Linked DNA regions of Homo sapiens. The protein of the gene in region 2 interacts with the protein of the main gene of each other region in a biochemical or structural test. Each region holds a gene or a part of one and is shown on either strand. Other genes may lie near its edges. The genes, in order: LRP6, FZD8 and SDCBP.

What was found.
Region 1: the proteins of FZD8 (region 2) and LRP6 form a complex in vitro, tested with the Homo sapiens proteins (one study listed by BioGRID).
Region 3: the proteins of FZD8 (region 2) and SDCBP interact in far-western blotting, tested with the Homo sapiens proteins (one study listed by IntAct).

The regions. Positions count from the first base shown.
Region 1 is NC_000012.12:12,263,988-12,271,659, forward strand, and holds the start of LRP6 (low-density lipoprotein receptor-related protein 6 isoform b precursor), read right to left. Parts: upstream 3,058-7,672; 5' UTR 2,749-3,057; coding exon 2,694-2,748; intron 1-2,693. UniProt on the Homo sapiens protein: Component of the Wnt-Fzd-LRP5-LRP6 complex that triggers beta-catenin signaling through inducing aggregation of receptor-ligand complexes into ribosome-sized signalosomes.
Region 2 is NC_000010.11:35,639,297-35,646,837, forward strand, and holds the start of FZD8 (frizzled-8 precursor), read right to left. Parts: upstream 2,432-7,541; 5' UTR 2,134-2,431; coding exon 49-2,133; 3' UTR 1-48. Other genes in the region: zinc finger protein 469-like, read right to left, coding at 2,432-3,117, 3,334-3,550. UniProt on the Homo sapiens protein: Receptor for Wnt proteins. Component of the Wnt-Fzd-LRP5-LRP6 complex that triggers beta-catenin signaling through inducing aggregation of receptor-ligand complexes into ribosome-sized signalosomes.
Region 3 is NC_000008.11:58,577,193-58,583,397, reverse strand, and holds the end of SDCBP (syntenin-1), read right to left. Parts: intron 5,366-6,205; coding exon 5,190-5,365; intron 3,776-5,189; coding exon 3,604-3,775; intron 2,882-3,603; coding exon 2,790-2,881; intron 1,713-2,789; coding exon 1,658-1,712; 3' UTR 540-1,657; downstream 1-539. UniProt on the Homo sapiens protein: Multifunctional adapter protein involved in diverse array of functions including trafficking of transmembrane proteins, neuro and immunomodulation, exosome biogenesis, and tumorigenesis.

The DNA.
Region 1 (7,672 bases), on a different chromosome or scaffold from region 2:
CAAAAAATTGGGGGCATAGTGGCACGTGCCTATAGTTCAGAGCTTTGGGAGGATGAAGCAGGAGGATCACTTAAGCCCAAGACTTTGAGACTGCAATGAGCTGTGATTACACCACTGCACCCCAGACTGAGTGATGAAGCAAGACTTTGTCTCTTTAAAAAAAAAAAAATTGTGAACGTTATACAAATTAAATCTCAAATCATGAAAGCATTTGAGGATATGTCCCTGAACAAGCAAAAATTATAGCAAAAAGTAACATTAACAAGGTACTCCATATTATTTCATTTAAAACACCCAATAACCCTGCAAACTAGTCAGGTATCATTATCCACACTACCAGTAAAGAAACTGAGACCTAGAGAAGCGGACTAGACCAGAACCACAAAGTTATGAAGTTGTGACACTTGGGCTTTAAATCCAAGATTTTAGTATTGAAATTCCCAAATCTTTCCTTTATACCTTGTCATGTGATGATAGAGATAGGGACACAGCACTAACAGTATTCCCTGGCTTTCTGCTACTAATTCAACAGGGCTACAGGACAGAAGGTCTCCCAGACTCTCACATACCCCATCACACCCAGCCAATGTTAAAGCCCCAATTCTTTGTGGGGGAAAAAAATGACCTAAATGCAACAAATCAATCAGATTTTTCTCCTTGGAGTCCAAGGTTGACTAAATATCTTTACTATAACAGAGGATGACATTCTCAAAGAATGAATTAATTCTAAATTATGAACAAAAATATTTTACATCAAAAGACAGTTTTACTTCAAATAATATGTACTCACAGCTAAGTACAGTACTGTTACATATTAGAAGACCACCTTACACCATATTTCGCCACATTTAAAACGAGAGCTCCACTTCTGAAAACTTTGCTAGTGGAAACGAGACAATTTAAACTATTACCTCTTCCAGGTCTTGTTACATAAATAAGTGCAACCTATCTAAATTCCAATAATGAACAAACCCAGCTCTGGTCTCAAAGCTGGTGTTAAACAAACGGCATTTACATCACACGCTTCTCCTCCAAGAAATACAACTAGACAACCAGAAACATCCCAAGTTATAAGTTTTCCCACGACTCTAACCAATCAGCTGGTTCTCATATTTGTCAGCCCTATTAACCTTATGTCTTAAAATACATACATATTCTTATGTCAAATATAGTTGTTTCTAACAGCTACAGCAAAACCCCTTTCAATAGAGTATGCCAATAATAAAATAAGTATATACTTATGAAACCTCTCCAGTACGTAACACTTCATTAAAATTTCTGCCACAAAAATCTAATGAACACTACCTTTCCGGGGTTTACATGTGGGAAAACTTTGTAATATGCTTAGAGTATCAAGTAATATAACATGCAAACACAATGCTGCATTACTACAGAGTAACTGAAGAAAGTATTTCTCCTCCTCCAAAAAAAAACTCAATCATTCTCATCCGAAATACATATACACAGTACACGCAAAAATATACACCTGTCACAGACTATTAGTTACTATTAGTGTTCTGTAAACTTAAATTAGTTTGGAGAACTTAACAAAAGTTTAGCTTGTTAACACCTAAAAATCTCCAGCGACCAGCGGTCACATGCCTGAAAAGAACTTACTATGAACGCCAGTAAGAACTTTACCAAACCAAAACTACAAGCCACCGTATCGAGCAGTACTTAAATTCCTCTGCTGGTAAATGCTCCACAGCCATCACAGCCATCTCAAGTTCAACACTAAATAGTTTGAGAAGAGCTGCCGACGGGCCAGTCAAAAATCTTTGTGAACTGTCACAAAAGTCACAGAGCATGTGTCAGCTTTGCAGTCCAATTCAAAACATCATAGTGCCATCGAATTCAAGCGATTCCCAGAGCAAATTATCTCGAACAGCCTATGCAATTTACCAAAGTGCCAAGCAGTCCCCAGGGGTGCAGAGCAAATTATCATTTTGGTCCCAGGACCGGCTCCTCTTCACACGAGGATGAATTTCCCTACTTAGTGCCAACTGTACACTTGCATACTCCGAAAATAGGGGCAAGCCGTGAATACCAGAGGTTACAAGGGCAATGTTTTATTTTATTATGGGCTGAAGCTCAGAAGGCTCCCAATGCTGAAACGCTCGACCTATAACCCCGGAGTCACTTTCCAACTGCGCTCTCACCCAGGGTCATTATATCCCAAACGGAAGCCAATCATTACCTGTAACAAGGCCTGGAAAAAATAGCAAGAGGGCTTTAAAAGTTCACCTAAGAAACACCGAAACGGGGTGGGGAGTGGGTGGCGGGGCTTCGATGGATAAGGCCAACCTTAAAGCATCTCGGACTCAAACATTTTAAAAGCCAAAATACGTACAAAGACCCTTTTCCCTGGAAGACCCCAGGCAGAGAGAGGCACACAGACACTCAGTCATCCCGACAGCATGGGGTGCCAAGGGTTCCCTAAGACCAGCAGCCGGGATCGAAGCTCCGATGTGTCCGGGGAAGGTCTGGGAAGCCAGGCCAGGTCCGCATTGTGGCCGGGCGGTGCACGCAGCCCCTGCTCCCGGGCCCCTTTCTCTCCCCCTCCCCACGACCAGGCCTCTCCCCGCTCCTCTCCCCTTCTCCCTTCCTCCGTCCCTCCCCTCCCCCTAGACACATACAACAAGGCCACCTCCCCCCGAACCCCACCAACTTTCCAGTGCCCCCACTCTTCCCACCTCTCAGGAGCACACAGAAGCTGCAGGCCAGGAGGCTCCTCAGGACGGCCCCCATCTTCCCTTCTCGCGTTCTCTTCTCTCACCGGCGAGGGGTGGCCAGAAGTGGGGGAGGCGAGGAGCCGGGGCGGCCGCCGCAGCGGCAGGGCTGCACGCTCATACTTCCCAGCTTCCCAGCGAGAGAAGAAAGAAAGGGGCACGTCAAGGTTCCGCGCGCGCCGCCGCCGCCCTCTCTACCGCGCCGCTCGGCCCCGGGCTCGCGCGACGCCAGCGTCTGCTTCCATCCCGCCGCCTCCTCCCCCGGCGCCCCGCTTCCCCCGCGCAGCTCCTCATTCAGCCTCTGCCTCGCGCAGCGGCGCAGGGATACGGTCGGCACCGCCTCCTAGGGTCGCCGCGACCGTGTCCCTGCGCGCAACGAGCCCCTTCTCCCGGTACTGCCTCCTGTACGGCCAGGGAAGGGAGTCGGCAACCGCACGCACAGCCTCTGCCTGAGACCCTGGGAGAGGTTCTGGGCTAGCAGAGGCGAACTGGGAGGGAAAGCCTCCTCCCGGTGGCGCATTCCAGCGGGATTCTTTCCCGGACCGGCCGCTTCGGCCCTCCCCGCGGAGGGCGTGAGGCGGCGTTGAACAACATTGGAGCCGGCGTGGTCGGGACTACTTTCTGCGGCTCGGCCGGGCAGCCGTCTGCCCCGCTCTTTGTGCGGCCGCCGCCGGCAGGGCCAGGTGGGGCTCCGGTCTCGCGCCCCCAGCCACCTGAGACTGCCCAGCCGCGGTGCACGCGCGGGGAGCCACGGCGGATCCCGTTGCGGGGTGATGAGCTCCGTCTTCGGGGTTGGAAATCGGTTTCAGCATCCTTTTTTTGGGAGGGCGGAATTTTTGAACGCTGTTTACACCGGCTTTCAGCGTGGATCTGGTGAACGATATTAAAACGCCAATTCAAAACTGAGATTGTCATTTTTCTCCCGCCTTCCCAGAAATACAAACTGCCCCCAGAATTAAGCCCGACCAGCTAAAGATTTCTAAACTGGCAGATAAAATTCCAAGATAAATGCCTCAAAACCTAAGAGCAAAGGGACAATTGGACAAGACTATTTAGGATTTTACAAGTTGCATATAATAACGAATGTTTGGCATGCTTCGATTATCAATTCTCAGCTTGAGAAGGAAAAGATTCCCTAGAATCTCAGACTGTGCACAGCCTCTGCTACTCCCAGTGCATTGGGCATTCAGGAGTAATGGCCCAGACGCCCCCTGAAATCACCTGCCAGGCTTTCGTCTGGGCAGAGGCGCTCCAACAGTTAACCCTAATGGAGCCATCAGATGCATCCTGCCCAGCTGTCACACGCCCTTACCTGGAGGCAGATGGGCAAGAAAGTGGAGCTGCTACCACAATGTTAACAAGTACCTCAGTGACATTGGAGTTCACTAGTGCTTGAACACAAGTTATCATATTTGACACTCAAAACTACCCTGGGGAAAGGCAGGTTTTGTTACTTATTCTTTATTGCACAGAGGAGCAAAATGAGAACCTGAGAGGTTAATGACTTACCCAGGGCCACTCAAGTAATGAATAGCAGTACCTCAGCCCAATCCAGGTCTCTGACTTAAGCCACTCCGCTCCTTCCAAGAAATGCGCGCTGAACCAAAGGTGCTGCAGGTTTGTAAGTAGATGGACAGCAGAAACAGCCAAATCACTTTCTCCCAAATTCACCTGAGGTCTAGTCACCGTTTATTTAAATGACCTGCTTCTAAGAACCAAGTGAGTTTTGTATTCTGGCTTCCTCAAAGCAGGAAACTGGGCCGGGGGCGGGTGGCTCAGGCCTGTAATCCCAGCACTTTGGGAGGCCGAGGCGGACAGATCACGAGGTCAGGAGTTCGAGACCAGCCTGGTCCAACATGGTGAAACCCCCGTCTCTACTAAAAATACAAAAAAAATTAGCCGGGCATGGTGGCACACGCCTGTCATCCCAGCTGCTCAGGAGGCAGAGGCAGGAGAATGGCTTGAATCCAGGAGGCGCAGGTTGCAGTGAGCCGATATCGCGTCATTACACTCCAGCCTGGGCAACAGAGCAAGATTGCGTCTCAGAAAAAAAAAAAAAAAGAAAAGAAAGTTAACCTTCACTTTCACAGGCCCCTTCCAATGTCTGGGGAGGGGCCTTTATGGTATGTTCACATGGTCCTATTTGCAAAACAAAGATAATTTTGAATTCCTCTTCTGTATAATTGTATTATACAAAATTGTATAAGCTTCAAGTCCCACAAAGCCTGGATCTGTCCCTATTTATAATAGAAAATGCGGTACAACTGGCCGGGCACGGTGGCTCACGGCTGTAATCCCAGCACTTTGGGAGGCCGAGGCAGGCGGATCACGAGGTCAGGAGATCGAGACCATCTTGGCTAACACGGTGAAACCCCGTCTCTACTAAAAATACAAAAAATTAGCCGGGCGCGGTGGCGGGCGCCTGTAATCCCAGCTACTCAGGAGGCTGAAGCAGGAGAATGGCGTGAACCCGGGAGGCGGAGCTTGCAGTGAGCCTAGATAGCGCCACTGCAGTCCAGCCTGGGCGAAAGAGCGAGACTCCGTCTCGAAAAAAATAAAATAAAATAAAAAAGAAAATGCGGTACAACCTAAATCTCCTCAGACTATCAACCTAAGTAGGGGAATGAGATATTACACACTGCTGAAAAATAATAATTTAGAGGATTATGCAACAGTGTTGAATGTTTATAGTGAGTTAAGCTTTTTTTTTTTTTTTTTTTTTTTTTGAGACGGAGTTGTGCTCTTGCTGCCTGGACTGGAGTAAAATGGCACAATCCCGGCTCACCACAACTTCCTCCTCCCAGGTTCAAGTGATTGTCCTGCCTCATCCTCCTGAGTAGCTGGGATTACAGGCATGCGCCACCACACCCAGCTAATTTTGTATCTTTAGTAGAGACGGGCTTTCTCCATGTTGGTCAGGCTGGTCTCGAACTACCGACCTCAAGTGATCCGCTCTCCTTGGCCTCCCAAAGGGCTGGGATTACAGGCGTAAGCCACCGCGCCCGGCCGAGTTAAGCTTTTAAAAAGTGAAAGTGCATGTACATTTGATTATAGCTATGTAAAATAAAAATATATATAATATACAAACATAAATGCACACACATATATATAGCACATATTTGAGCAAAGACCAAAAGTAAGTGCACTAAAATAGGCATTAGGATGGTGAAATAATATGAGATGTAGTTTGCTTTTCTGTTCTTCAATTTTGTTTAATGTACTATATATTTACTACAAATTTTTAAAAGATGCTTAAGTGAAAATCTATAGGTTAAGCTTAAGCCCTAGAGAGAATGCCATTATTACTGCATAACTAATTTTGTTTCTCATTCTTTTAAGTGCCAATCAGATACCAATCACTCTGTTAAGTGTTGGGGATATAAAGATGAGAGTAATCATAGTCCCTACCCTCAAGAAGCTTACAGCCTAGTTTGGAAACACTGATTAATAAAGTGAGTAATTAAAATATTAAAATCTGCAGGGCACAGTGGCATACAACTGTAATCCCAGCACTTTGGGAAGTCAAAGTGGGCAGATCACTTGAGCCCAGGAGCTCGAGACCAGCCTGGGCAACATGGCGAAACCCCATCTCTACAAAAAATACAAAAATTAGCTAGACATGGTGGCGTGTACCTGGAGTCCTAGCTATTCGGGAGGCTAAGGTTGGAGGATCACTTGAGCCTAGGAGGCCAATGCTGCAGTGAGCTGTGATCTTGCCACTGCACTCCAGCCTGGGCAATACAGTGAGACCCTGTCTCCAACTAAAAAAAAAAAAAAGACAAAATTGCTAAGTGTAGAGATGCTTTTCTGCCTAGACAATTCAAAGAAGGGAAAAAAGGGCCAGGCGCAGTGGCTCACAACTTTAATCCCAGCTACTCACGAGGCTGAGGCACAGGAATCACTTGAACCCAGGAGGCGAAGGTTGCAGTGAGCCGAGATTGCGCCCCTGAACTCCAGACTGGGCAACAGAGTGAAACTCTGTCTCAAAAAAACAAAACAAAACAAAACAAAAGAAGGGAAAATAACCCTAGCGCTGAGGTTGGAAATACAAATCAGACTTTGCCAGGCCAACAAGACTGAAAAAAAATTTCAATCACAATAGTAGGTTTAAAGACACTGAATCATTAGAGAACTTAGTATGTTGGGGATTTGAAAGTAGATTCATATAGCTGATGCATGGAATGCTTTTAGAGAATGTCAGGAATTGAGGCAGGACCATTAAATAGCTATTGATTAATAAAAACCTTTTCAAGCCATGCTAAGAAGTTTAGATTTTAGCATATTAACAATGCGGACATTGAAGAATTTTGCACATTGTACAGAAGTCTATGAAAGGGGCAATCAGGACAGCAGCGCTGAGGACTGAAAAGACATCATGGATTTAAAGAATACGAGATTAAAACAGGACTTTTAGTTGTGAATTGAGAGAGAAACAGAGAGTAATGGGAGTCTCCTTTACAAAGAAAAGAAAACCTAAGAAGTATTTCAAGAAGGAGTGGGTAATAAGTTTAACAATGGCTCTTTTGTATTGGAGGTGTCTATGAAACATCCAGGTGGAGGCCGGGCGCGGTGGCTCACGCCTGTAATCCCAGCACTCTAGGAGGCCGAGGTGGATGGATCATCTGAGGCCGGGAGTCCGAAACCGGCACGGCTAACATGGTGAAACCCCATCTCTACTAAAAACAGAAAAATTAGCCAGGCATGGTAACACGTGCCTGTAATCCGAGCTACTCAGGAGGCTGAGACAGGAGAATTGCTTGAACCCGGGAGGCGGAGGTTGCAGTGAGCCAAGATCACGCCATTGCCACCCAGCCTGGGTAACAGAGTGCGACTCTGTCTGAAAAAAAAAAAAAAAAAAAAAAAGGCCGGGCGCGGTGGCTCACGCCTGTAATCCCAGCACTTTGGGAGGCCGAGGTGGGCGGATCACGAGGTCAGGAGGCCCA
Region 2 (7,541 bases):
TCTCCTCGCCCCCCTCCCCACCCCTCCTGGGCGCCCCCTCCCCTCCGCTCAGACCTGGGACAATGGCATCTGCTTTGGATAAGACACGGAGCTCGCCGTGCCCGACCGCCACGTCAGGCCAGTGCTGACGTCGCTGTAGAGGGAGCCCCCGCCGCCGCCCGGCCCCCCGCCGCCGCCGGGTCCCCCGCCGCCGCCGCCCCCCGGCCCGCCGCCACCCCCCGCGGCCGTGGCGCCCGCGCCCCCGCCCACCGCGGCGCCCTTGCTGGCCCAGCAGCAGCGGGTGCACAGGGAGCGCCAGGACTCCAGCGTCTTGCCGGACCAGACCCACACGCCCGAGGTGATGCCCACCACTAGGCACATGAAGTACTTGAGCATGAAGACGGCGTAGTCGGGCCTGCGTGCCTGGTCGGGCTGCAGGTCCCGCAGGCACGGGCAGTTGTGCGTGGCCTCCCAGCGCGGGCGGTTGTGCTGCTCGTAGAAGAGGCAGGCGACCACCACCGCGGCGGGCACGGTGTAGAGCACGGTGAACAGGCCCAGGCGGATCATCAGCTTCTCCAGCTTGTGCGTCTTGGTGGGGCCGTCCTGTTGCTTGATGACCGAGCGGATGCGGAAGAGGGACACGAAGCCGGCCAGCAGGAACATGGTGCCGATGAAGAGGTAGATGACCAGCGGCGCCAGCACGAAGCCGCGCAGGTTGTCCAGGCTCTGGTTGCCCACGTAGCAGATGCCCGCCACCGGGTCGCCGTCCACCGAGCTGAGCGCCAGCACCGCGATGGACTTGACGCTGGGCACAAGCCACGCGGCCAGGTGGAAGTACTGCGAGTAGCCGGCGATGGCTTCGTTGCCCCACTTCATACCGGCCGCCAGGAACCATGTGAGCGACAAGATCACCCACCAGATGGAGCTGGCCATGCCGAAGAAGTAGACCAGCAAGAAGACCACGGTGCACAGCGCGGGGCCGGTGGTCTCGTAGCGCACGTGCTGCTCCACCGCGCCCAGCTCCTCGTACTCGCCGCGCCCGCCCGGGCCGCCCGCGCCCGCGCCCGCCGCGCCCGCGCCCGCCGCCGCGCCGCCCGCGCCCCCAGCGCCCCCCGCGCCCGGCGCGCCACCGCTGCACGCCACCTTCTCGTGGCCCGCCACCAGGCGCACTAGGTAGCCCACCGACACGAAGAGGTAGCAGGCCGAGAGGAAGATAATGGGCCGCTCCGGGTACTTGAAGCGCTCCATGTCGATAAGGAAGGTGGAGACGGTGGCGAAGGTGGACACGAAGCAGAGCACCGACCACAGGCCGATCCAGAAGACGGTGAAGGCGCGCTCGTCCTGGCTGAAAAAGGGGTTGTGGCAGGGCAGCGCGCAGTTAGCGATCTGGCCTGTCTTGACGCGGTTGTAGAGCGGGTGGCGCTCGCTGGACACGCTCACCATAGGCGCGCGGCACTGGCACCCGGGCTCGCAGGGAGCCGCGCCGCCGCCAGGGGGCCGCGCCTTCCCGCCACCGCCGCCGCCGCGAGCTGGGGGCGCCGCCGCGTCCCCGCCGCCACCGCCCCTGCCGCCGCCGCGGTGCGGGGGCCTGGCCCCCGGCGGGCGGCCGTGGCCGCTGCCCGAAGGCGGCTGCTCGCCGGGCGGCGGCGGCGGCAGGCGGCGCGGCGGGCTGGGCGCGGCGGTGGTTAGGTCGGTGCGGTTGTAGTCCATGCACAGCGTGTCAGGGTTGCCTTGCTCGGGCAGCCGGTCGCAGCGCATGCGGTCGGGCCAGGCGAAGCCGTACTGGCGCATGAGCGGCGCGCAGCCGGCCTTGGCGCGCTCGCACACCGAGCGGCAGGGCGGCAGCGGCTTCTTGTAGTCCTCTAGGCAGATGGGCGTGTACATGCTGCACAGGAAGAACTTGAGATCGGGCGAGCACTGGATCTCCACCAGCGGCCAGAACTGGTGCACCTCCAGGCCCGCCTCGTCTTGCGTGTCGTGGTTGAACTGATTGGGCATGTAGGTGTAGTTGTAGCCGATGCCCTTACACAGCGGCACGGTGATCTCTTGGCATGCCAGCTCCTTGGCCGAGGCGGCCGCAGCGCCGCTAGAGCGCTGCAGCAGCGCCAAGGCGGCCAGCAGCGAGGTCACTTCCAACAGGTAACCCCACTCCATGCTGTGCGCCTCGGCCCGGTGCCCTCGCCCTCCAGGCGGCGCGCAGAGGGGTGCCGGGGGGGGGGCCCACGAGAGAGCCGCAGACGGGTACAGCGGGTGATCTGGGGTCTCCCTTATGCTTCGCCCGGGAGGGGGGTCTGCCGATAATCTAACCCCTTCTAGGGGCGCGTCCGCAGCGGCGCGGCCCGCAGCCTGGGCAGGGCCCTTCCGCACTCCTTTCCGCCGCTCCGGGGGTTTGAAGGCGGCTGCAGGCGCGCGCCACAGTCCGTAGGTCCGCTCTGCTGGCCCCGGGTCGCGCTCAGCCCTCGCGGCGCAGAGCGGCCGGGCCTCGGCTCATCGTCCCGCGCTCGCTCGCCTCCTCTCCGCGCGCCCGACCACTTCTCCCCGCCGCGCCGGGCGGCGGTGACTCCGCCGGACAGAGAGGGCGGAGGCGCCGCAAGTTTCCTCTGGGGCCGCGGTGCGCAGTCAAGATGGCTGGGCCGGGCCGCTTGCCGCGCCGGGTCAGCCCTGGCGGCCACCACTCGGCCCCCGGGGGCTCATGCCCGCCCCCAAGGCCAAGCCGCCGCCGCCGCCGCCGGAGTTGGGGACCCGCCTCGGCCCAGGCCGCCGCCCTCTTTCTCCGGCGTCCGTCCTTCGTCCGTCCGCCGCCGGGACAGACGGACCCCCGCCGCCTGGAAAAGTCAGCGCCGCGCTCCGGCCGCAGTCGGGCGAGGTGCACACAGTCTCCTTCCTGCTGGACACCCAGGAGCAAATCCAGACCGGAAGGCGGAGCGGACACCTGAGTGGCGCGGCCCGCGCCCAGCCGCCGCCTCCTCCTCGGCGGGAGCAGCGCCCTTAGCCCAACTTCCCGGCTCCAGCCCCGCTCGCGCCGCGCTGCCGGCTCATGAATATTTATACAGCGCGGACTCGGTCTCCGCCCCCAGCCCCGCGAGCCAATCGCCGGGCGGTAGGGCGGAGTCCACGCGCTCCCAGGGCTCAGCCTTCCTTAAGGCAGTCCCCGAGTGTCCGCACTGCTGTGCGCGCTCTCTGCGGATGGAGAGTTTTGGTAACCTTGGGATTGACCGCAGAGACAGAGTGTTGGCCATGGCTGTCCCCATGGCGCTGAGTGCGTCGGAGGTCTTGGTCCCCTTACCCCGAGTCTGCCCTTGGGGACAGGGACGGGGTTTGGTGCAGCGCGCGCCTCCCCGGCGCGTTTCAAACCAGCCAAGCCCCTGCTGCCACCCTCCGCAAATGTGGGTGATCTGCAGGCGGCTGGGGTCTCGTGCTCCTCGGGGCGGCAGGAAGGTCTCGCAGCAGGCGAGCGCCGGGGAGGCCTGCCGGGGCTCGGCGCTGCAGAAGACCCGGGAAAGGGTGTCCTCCTTGGGGTTCTCAGAACGATGGTTTCTGAGACTTGGAGATGTGGGGGGTGTGGAGTCATTCTAAACTGGGGCTGGACCCGGGACGGCCCGGGTGAGATGCCCCGGAGCCCAGCCTTGGGCGCGCGAGGGGCGCGGGGGACAAATGCCCGCCAGAGACTCTCCTCCCGCCTCCGCTGCGTGACCTGGGGGAGCCTCAGTTTCCCCACCTAGAGAGTTGGGTGATCATAGCACAGATCTCCAAGGGGGCTTTGATAATTAGGTGAGATAAAATATAGGAAGCCCCGAGCCGCCGTGCTTTCTTAGGAAAAATCATTCAATTTCTTTCTAAAATTCAAAACAAACCTCGAAACTTATAAATAGGACAGGCTGGAAACTCTGGGGCTGGATTCCCTGTCTTCCCTTCGTTCTTTCAGGACGTCTATTCATCCATCCCAAGTTCACAGGCTTTTGCCAGAGCCTCCTTTTCTCTGGTGGGAGGCGGCGCTGCGCTCTGGCGTGGACTCCGCGACACGTATCTGCTCTCTGCACGAGGCCGGAGCCGGACCCGGGCTGCTTTTAGCAGCCGCTTGGGCCACCGCCAGCGAACGCTGCCCCCGCCGGCTCCGCCGCCACCTTAAGACGGGCCGGGAGGGGGGCTGCGGGCGGCCCGGGCCGGCGGCCTGGCAGGTTCATTTACGCTTGTTAGGGCGTCCCAGGGGGCTGTCTTTCTCCTAGAATGGAGTGTTTATTTTTTAATTGATGTGCTGTTTCATTTAGCGCTTGTATGGAACTCATGCTGGGGCAGTAATTACTGTAATCTCGGGAACAAGCATTTCAGTTAGCCAGGAGGGTGGCAGAATATGTTTCTCTCTCTCTTTCTCTCCCTCCCTCCCGCCTCCTCCCCATCTCCGTCCCCCTCTCTCCCTCTTCCTCCCTGCCTCTCTTCTGTCTTCCCTCTCTCTCTCTCCCCACCTCCTTTCCTTCTCTCTCTCCCCCACCACTTTCTCTCCCCCCTCCTCCTCTTCCCCTCCTCCCTCTCCTTCCTTCCCTCCCTTTTCTCTCCGCTCTCTCACTCTCTTCTTGTTTCAAGATTTTTGCTATTTGCCAGGTTTCATACCGGAACAAGTACAGTTGGAGAACAAAAGTTGCAGAGGGCGTGGGGACAGAGCAAAAGAATTAAAAGTACATTTGAGGCCAGTTCCGGTTTTCGGGGCGCTGCTGGTGGTGGTGGTAGCTCGTGGTTGTCCGTTCAGAAACAACTCTTGTCATAAAACAAAAATAACCAGCAGTATTTGTAGATTGCTTGAGCTGATGGCATCTATGTCTTCCTCCTCCTGCTTTCTGTAGCTCAGTTAGCAACCTCATTATGAAACATATTACAAGTAGACTGTCAGACCGCACCCTGCCCCAGCGCCCCGTTTTTGGCAAGTTCTGTGTTCTAGGCATATCCACCAATCTATAGTTATACCCCCCTATCTTTTTAACTTTTTTAGTTTTAGTCTATAGAGTTGAACCTCTTTATACTGAAAAACAACACTTCCTTCCCACTTTTGTTTTGGAAAAACTAAAGTCCGTAGGAATTCGGAATTCAAAGGCTTCAGAAATATTAGCTGATTCAGCAGAAAACGGGCTATTCAAAAATACAGACTAGACCTTTACTTGATTAAAAAATTTTTTTTCTTTTCTCACCTCCTGCAAATCGGAATTCCCACTTGTATGTTGAATGTAGAAATTCACTATCTCTGCGGTTGGCACCTTGTTTCCAGAGGGCGAGTCTCCAGAACGCATCAGCTGCAGGTAATTGCCAGAGGTTCCAGTGCTGATCTGAGGGCAGCGGTGCAGGCAGAGCCCCAAAGACCAGCAAGGGTGCTGCACTGCCCGCACCACAGATGGGAGGGGCTGGTTTCCAAGAGCAACACAGATGGTGAAAAGTTTCTGTTGCTTTTCTTCCACGGGGAAATGTCAAATAGTGAAGTTTAGAATTACACTACATAAATTTGCTAGAATTGGGTAAAAACAAACTGACATTTGAAAATTGAAATTGAAGCTGAAAATGGTTGATTTTGGCTCTTAATTGGCTTTAAATTTTTTTTCTTTTTTCTTTTGAGACAAGATGAAAAGTTTGATGATGTGGAATGTGGAAATTTTGGGTAAGTATGTTAAGTTTGCATGAGAAAATAAGCAGACTGAAGTTCAGAATTTCAAAAATCATATCAGCTATTTGGGAGATCTTAGTGATTTGTGAGGTTAAAACCAGTTACATAAAAGTCATGACAAATGTACTTTTAATTGAGAGAATATAAGAATCGCATTTTACATCTACTGTTAAATTAAACGGCTACTTGGTAGTCTTTCAGAGAAGGGAGAGACTTCTGTAGCCAATTAGTGCGTAAAAGGTAATGATGGGTTACCTAGAAGTAACCAGAACATATATCAACTTCTATGGCTAAATAATGATATTTTCATTGTATGTAAAGCAGCTGTTTTTTAGGGGAGGGGAAATAGCTTTAGTAGTGACATAAATAATGTAGGGAAGTTTCTAAAGGGATTTCTGAGCAGATGGCTTGTTGCTGAATGGCCTGCAAGCAAATAATGTAAACAGTTGGAATCAGGAATCTACCTCAGAGGAGGGAAGGTTTTACAAAACGTTGGCTACCGAGTTAGACAGGGGACTATCAATACTGTCTGTAACAAATTTAAGAAACTTTGGGGAAATCATGTTCCAGTGGATTACCATCTAAAAATCCAATATAAGAATCTGGATGGAAGAGAGAGCCTGGCATATACTAACAGAATGATACGTTCCAAAGATTAAATGAGGAACTCTTTGGTAACTAATACAATTTCTCAGGTGTTATAAACTGCCAAATATTGGCCAGATACGGTGACTCATGCCTGTAATCCCAGCACTTTGGGACGCTGAGGCAGGCAGATCGCTTGAGTCTAGGAGTTCGAGACCAGCCTGGGCAACATAGCAAAACCCTGTCTCTACAAAAAATACAAACATGAGCTGGGTGCGGTGGCATGTGCCTGTAGTCCCAGCTACACCAGAGGCTGAGGTGGGAGGATCACTTGAGTTTTGGAGGCTGGGGCTGCAGTGAGCCATGACTGTATCACTGCACTCCAGCCTGGGCAACAGAGTAAGACCCTGTCTCTAAATAAATAAATGCCAAATATTATTTTCTCTCAAGAAAACAGTTAAGTACTATATTATTAGATAATATAAAATTCTTATCACTGGCTGGGCTCAGTGGCTTACGTTTGTCTTAGTGCTTTGGGAGGCCAAGGTGGAAGGATCGCTTGAGGCCAGGAGTTGGAGAGCAGTCTGAGCAACATAGTAAGACCCGAGTCTACCAAAAAAAAAAAAACCAAAAACAAAACAACAACAACAACAAAAAAAACAACAAAAAAACAAGGCCAGGCACGGTGGTTGTTCACGCCTGTAATCCTAGCACTTTGGGAAGCCGAGGTCAGAGGATCACTAGAGGTCAGGAGTTCGAGACCAGCCTGGCTAACATGGGGAATCCTTGTCTCTGCCAAAAATACAAAAATTAGCTGGACATGGTGGTGGGTGCCTGTAATCCCAGCTACTTGGGAGACTCAGGCAAGAGAATTGCTTGAACCTGGGAGGCAGAGGTTGCAGTGAGCTGAGATTTTGCCACTGCACTCCAACCTGGGCAACACAGTAAGAGTCTGTCTAAAACAAAAAAAAAAATTAGTCGGGCCTGTAGCACGCACCTGTGGTCCCAGCTACTTGAGGCGCTGAGGTGGGAGGATCGCTTGAGTCCATGAGTTTGAGGCTGTAGTGAGCCGTGATCATGCCTGTACTCCAGGTTAGGTAATAGAAAGAGACCCTGTCTCAAAAAAAAAAAAAAAAAAAAAAAAAAGACAAAACCCACAACAACAATAACAAAACCTCTAATGGTAATATTGGGGCATCTTGGTGTTTTAAAAATCTGCCTTTCAAAGGGTTATGTCTTGAGTCTCTCAGTCCATAAATGGAAGGGGAGGTAGAGGTGAACTGGCCTCATCAATCTCTGCTAGCTTTAAACAGGTGAGATTATTTTTATA
Region 3 (6,205 bases), on a different chromosome or scaffold from region 2:
TTATTTTGAAATTATCTTCAGACTCAGGTAGATAATCAAATATTTTTTTCTCTTCTAAATTTCAAACAAGGTAAGCTGTATAGCAGTAGCAGATTTCCTTTTATATTCAACCTCTGAACCATGGTAAGTGTGTGACTTATTATTTTTTCTATACTCTTTAAAAACATTGTTGTATCTTGCAGGTAGTATGACATAGGAGAAAAAACTTGAGTCAGACCACACTAATAGAATTTCCAAAGTCAGTTTCAGTGTTATTAAATATTACCTGGTCTCAGGTATTGCTAGGGACAATCAGTAGCCTCAATGAGTTCCTGCTGCATGGCAGGTGTGAACCAGCTCTTCTTTTGGCCCTGGTAATCTGGGGTTCCCAGCTGGAAGCAATTTTCCTGACACTCAGTCTCAGCACTGAGAGCTGTTCTTAGGGCCCCTGAATGTCAGCTTGTTCTGGGAGATGATGTCTCCCACAGCTGAAAGTGAATTTCACCTGCCTGTCTTCTAGATCATGCATAAGTTTGGTGAAAGCAAATGATGCAGTAATAGACAGACTAAAATGTAACTTTATTTATACATATTTAATTAGAATAGACATAAACCAAAAAGAAGAAAAAAATCAGGATAAAGTGTCAACTATCATTTTGTTTGCAAGGAGGAGTCAGGAAAAGGAACAAGTTATCAGAAAAATATTCTAAGACCATCCCAAAGTAGCTAGGTTACATAATCTTAAGAGTCAAATGCCAAAATTAAGTATTATACCACTTAATCCACAAATGAACAAAAGGGGAGTCAAAAGTTTATCCTGTTTAGTGTAATAACTTTTACATCACATATAGTGATTCACTTCTTAAAAGTGGCACTGGCAACTTTTAGAAGAAAGAAGTTTCCATTATGTGTTGACTAAAAAATCTCAAAAACAACTAAGCAGCTATGCTATAGCTCAGTAAGTACCATTAAACTGTTCTGGGCTAGTGTACATTTCAGGTTAATAGAGAACTACATTTTGGGTTTTTAGAAAGGCAGCAATAATTATATTTTGGCTTTTAGTCTAGATGCTTAACATAGTTAAGGCGACAGTTCAAGCATATTAAGTGAAGGTAGTTAAAATTTAAGAATCATCACAATCTCTTGAAACCTACATACACTGTTTAATGCTTACATGGAATGAAACCAGTGTTCTTAATTGGCATTTTACACACACACACACAGAATTTAAAAAAAAAATCAAAGGCAATCATTCTAAATGTACTATGATAGCATGTTAAAGATGCAAGTATGCTATAGAACTAAAGTAATATGAACAGCACTACTCATTACCTAGGAGAAAGGTGACTGGTTTTCACACAAAGCTAAGCCTGTAACAGTCATCCTAATCACAATGGCTTATAAAAGCATCAGGTTTCCAGTAGAGAAACTATTCTAGGAAAGTCAGTAAATCTCTTGAAAGTTTCACATCTGTAAAACCAGGATAAGGCTACAACTATTTTGAAATCTGAACAAGGTATCAGATGAAAGAGTAAGATTCCCAGCCATAATGTAAGATAGAAAGGTCCTCATGCAGCATATGCTCGCTGGCTCCGGGAAGGCTTCACGTGCATAATACAGAAGTTGCCAAAGAAGGAAACTGGAGACGTTCAGCTACATTTCCATGGTGCCGTGAATTTTAAACCTCAGGAATGGTGTGGTCCATTAGGCTTTTCATAATGCTTGGTGCCATCCTACAAGAGAGGTACTTTTATTATATACCGAGATTCTGGTTTTTGTTTTTCAAAATGCTACATTAATCCAAGAAAATTCCCAATTCCAATTTAGCACCTGTTAGCATCAAATATGAATGGAGAGAAGGGAAAGATCTTTTAAATGAGTCCAGAAGCATCTCTGGTAATCTAGTTGTTGACAGACACTCAGTGGGAAAGACTATCTGTATTTGGCTAGAGAAGTTAGGATACAAATGAATTCCTGTGCATTAAACATGGTGATTTTTAAAAAACAGAAAGAAAATGACAAGGCTGTGATGAGTTGGGGTAGAGGGATCCATCAGTGATTTAAGAAAAGAGAACCCTAGAAAAATTAGTCATGACAATAACTCCTTTTTACCCCCTCCAAGGGTAGCTAGGTGCATTCTATCCAGAAGCCAACACAAAAATTTCATTACAATGGTTATGTTTATGAATCTTTTAAATCTCATTTTCACATGCATAATAGAGCTTCTGAAAGGATTCCAAGCTGGCTTGACAAAAACAGCTATGGTAGATGCTAGGATATGAAAAGCTCTATAGAAGGAACCTTGTTGCCTCTTTTCAGTTCTGATCACTTGGCTTTCTAATCCTCAGTTCCTGAGCACAGATAGCACCAACACACCACACTTGTCTATCTGCCTCTTGAGATTCTGGAGAGAAGGGAAACTTACTCTTAGCATTCCACCAGCAAGAATTCTCCATTACGAACCACCACAACTATATTTATACTGAGCAGAGGGGTGGTAGGCAGTGCAACTGCAGTCAATTGCACTGCAAATTGAAAGCTGAAAGCATGCCCACTTCTCCTTGCATACCTTTTTTCTACCAGGCATTATAAAAACTGAGGAAAGTATATGTGAATTTTATTCCGTACTTGGGAAGTTGTAAGAGCTCATCCTTACCAACCCTCTGATTTAAATAACTTACTTCAAATTTCTAGATAAAACACCAGTATCCATTCCTTGGGTAAAAGAACCAAAGGGCTGAGAATTAAAGTATAGTGCTTATATTAAGTCACATGACCATATGCATTAAGTTGAGGAATTGTTTACTTACCGCTTAATAATATGTTCAAAGATAAAAGCAGGCATGATTGTAATAGTAACTACAGTCCCAGATGTTGACAGTATGTCTGCAATTTGAGAGTCCTGATAAAAACACATATTAAAAATTAATTCCACAGAGGCTTTATTTAATAAATACAAAACTATGCCAGTCTTGGTAAAGAAATACAAAATATATGTCTTGGTATTTCTAATTTTTTCTAGTATTTCTTACCAAGTTTAATTGTACACTATTTTACAGCTAGTAACCAAATTGCTTAAGTAAACTGAGTTGAATATTTTAACCAAAAAAAAACTTTTCCTTTCTGAATATTAGATAATTTTCCCCATATACAATATTACCATCTCCTCTTATTAACTGTGTATTCTAAATCAAATTCTATGAAATGAGGAGGTCATGCTTAAAACTTTTTGACCTTAAGACAGACTTATTTAGGAATTTGTGGAGGAGAAAAACTATAAAAATAAAGTATTAATATGAACCAAAACTATTATTCATTTCCTTATATTCCTGGATTGAGAAATGCTGGGCCACTATTCATATTCTAAATCTTTGTTGCCCATATTTCCACAGAATTCTAGTGTGAGGTACTTCTGAGATCATTTATTCCAGCCCACTTGTTATAGGAACTGTAGTTCTAGATGACAGCCCAAATAATTCCGGTGACTGGCCAGACCAAGAGTTCAGGCCCCACGTTCCCCATCTCCCACCTAAGTCAATATGAAAACAGCGCCACCTAAATACAGTCAAAAGACAGACATTTTCTAAAACTGCAGCAGAACATGGCACAAAGTCTGTTCCTTACCTTCAATCCAATGACATTCTGTCCATTGATTTCACAGATGTTATGTTCCGTGAGAAGACCATTTCTGGCTGCAGAGCTATCTTTCACTATGGATGTTATTTTTCCATTTTTAAAGATAAAACCAACATGTCCAGTGCTATCCTTATGCATGGTAATCGTCCGTTCAAAGGGCCTACAAACATAATTGGTTCAATTAAAAACTTAATTCTAAGCTAAACATTTTAATGGATTTCATATAGCATAAATGTTGCCATATTGGATACTTTTATAATAAACACTGTTTCTAATAAGAGCAACTTATGGCTCTGATTTTATACATTCACGGAACATCTTTGTGTAAAAGTTTTTTTTAAGTTTATTCATTATGGTTTGACTGATTTACTAATCAACATTTCCTTCTTTAAGTATAAAAGACAACTGCTTTATATGGTTTTATCAATATGTTTTTCTTTTATAATTAGACTTTACAGCATTAAGAATGACATAGGCTTTTTAACTAAATCACAGTGGTAAAGATAATTTTTATTTTTTATTAACTTTTGGTATTTTCTAGAGCCAAATCATTTTTAGGACTATTTCTTTTATTTAAAACCTTTAAAATATTTCTCACATCTTGATTTTGAAAATTTTATACATTGCTATCTTTGAAAAGAAAAACTAGAGCAGCAGTAAGACTTAAGTTCCTCAAGCCCCTTTGGAAAGGGAGGCATGCAGCTATTATTAAAAGGCATCCAGCTGTCCCTCTAGAGTTGTTATAGCAGTCACATTTGCTTGATTCTCTATAAACTCTGTTATCATGTTATCATAAGGGTTTTAGGATCAACTTGTGTTTACATTATTAAATTCAGAAGAGGCATTTCTTCCTGTTAGTACAACTTACTCTTTGAAACTCTGCTTAGATAGAAAGTAAAAAGGACATTCATCTGAAACATTTACGAAATACCTAAACTGAATGAGAAACTGGAAACACAAAGATAAAACAGAAGTTTCACTGAGAAGGAACAAAAACTCAAAGCTTACTGTAACAATGCAATATACGTCTACCCTTAATTGGGTATGGAGTAGACAAGAAAATAAATGGAGGCCCCTATTTCATGTGCTAAATGTTTAAGTTCTAAATGAATGAGCTGCTAAATAGAATATTCCATGTTCTTGAAAACTACTGCTTCATAACTACCCAAAAGTCTTGATACGGTTTTCAGAACTCCCATACTACTTGGAAGTCTGCATGGGCTCTGACCCTCACAATGAGGGACCACTGTGTGTGAACACCCTAGGCTGGATGTATCTAAGCAGTAAGTTGGAAAGTGAGCCCAGAGATGCCCTGCAACTCAGTTACTTCTCCAACATACGTTTTCTATTTTCTAGAGAGATTTGTCCTATAAACTCTGAAATAAGGTATCGTATCAGAATGCTTTAAAAACAATGTAAGAAAAATCTGCACCACACAACTGCAAGACTATAAGGCTCATCAATAACATTTGATCATTTTCTGCAACAAAATAATATACTCACAAACTCTGAAAGCCCAAAAAAATGGAAAACTAGTATTGAATTTTCATTTGAGCTGTTTAGTAACAGCTTACCTGTCACGAATGGTCATGGTAATCTTCTCTCCAAAAGCCTGTTTGAGCACCTTGTGCGCTTTATCAGAGCTCCATCCTGCACAGTTTTCACCATTGATCTGAAGTACTTGGTCCCCAAATCTCAGACCAACCAATGAGGCTGGAGAATTAGCCTGGACTAGCTGAACAAATATACCCTAGATAATAAGAAAATAATTTTTGTCATTTACCACTACTATGATACGGTTTTAAACGCTGGAAAATTAGGAAACAACTGTTTATGTTGAAAACTCTACCCCAGTGACAAAAAAGAAAGAAAAAGAAAAAAAGGAAAAACTATATGAGTATATTAAGTTATCACCTCAAAAGAAACTGAAAAATTTATCAAGACAGCAACTCCAAAGAATAAGGCAAAAAAGTGAGATTTCAATGGCAATTTCTATACCAAATCATGACCCACCTGACCAACCACAATCCCCCCCTTCAACTTGGAATACAAAACTAAGGAAAATACAGTAGGACAACTTTAATAAATGCAAGCGTCTGAGTCTGATAGAATACCAAATTATCAGTACATAATCATATTTAGGGGAAAAGCGAGTCACATGTTAGAAAGTTTGATGAGTTCTTTTACAGCTTAATAAATGACAGTTTAAGGTCATAATTCTACCTTTTGAGCTGAAGCATTCCTTTACCCATTTGCTAAATTGTGTATAATCAAGTAAGATTAAAGTTTATTTGTTAGACTAAAAAGATGGGCATATTAAATCCACATGCACAGGCTTATAAAGAACACACAATGAAATAAATACAGAAAACTCAAATACTGTTAACCAATAACTACACTCACATGGATATTTTTACTTATGTAAAATCTCAATCAGAAGTTGAACAAAATATAAATAGGTAAGTATAAAAGAAGAATAAGCCTGGTAAAATATAAGTGCATCTACTTCTACAATCCTAAGCTAGGTCACATATTTCTATCACACATCTGTTACATTGTAGAATGATAAGCAAGAACTAGGTAGCACCCC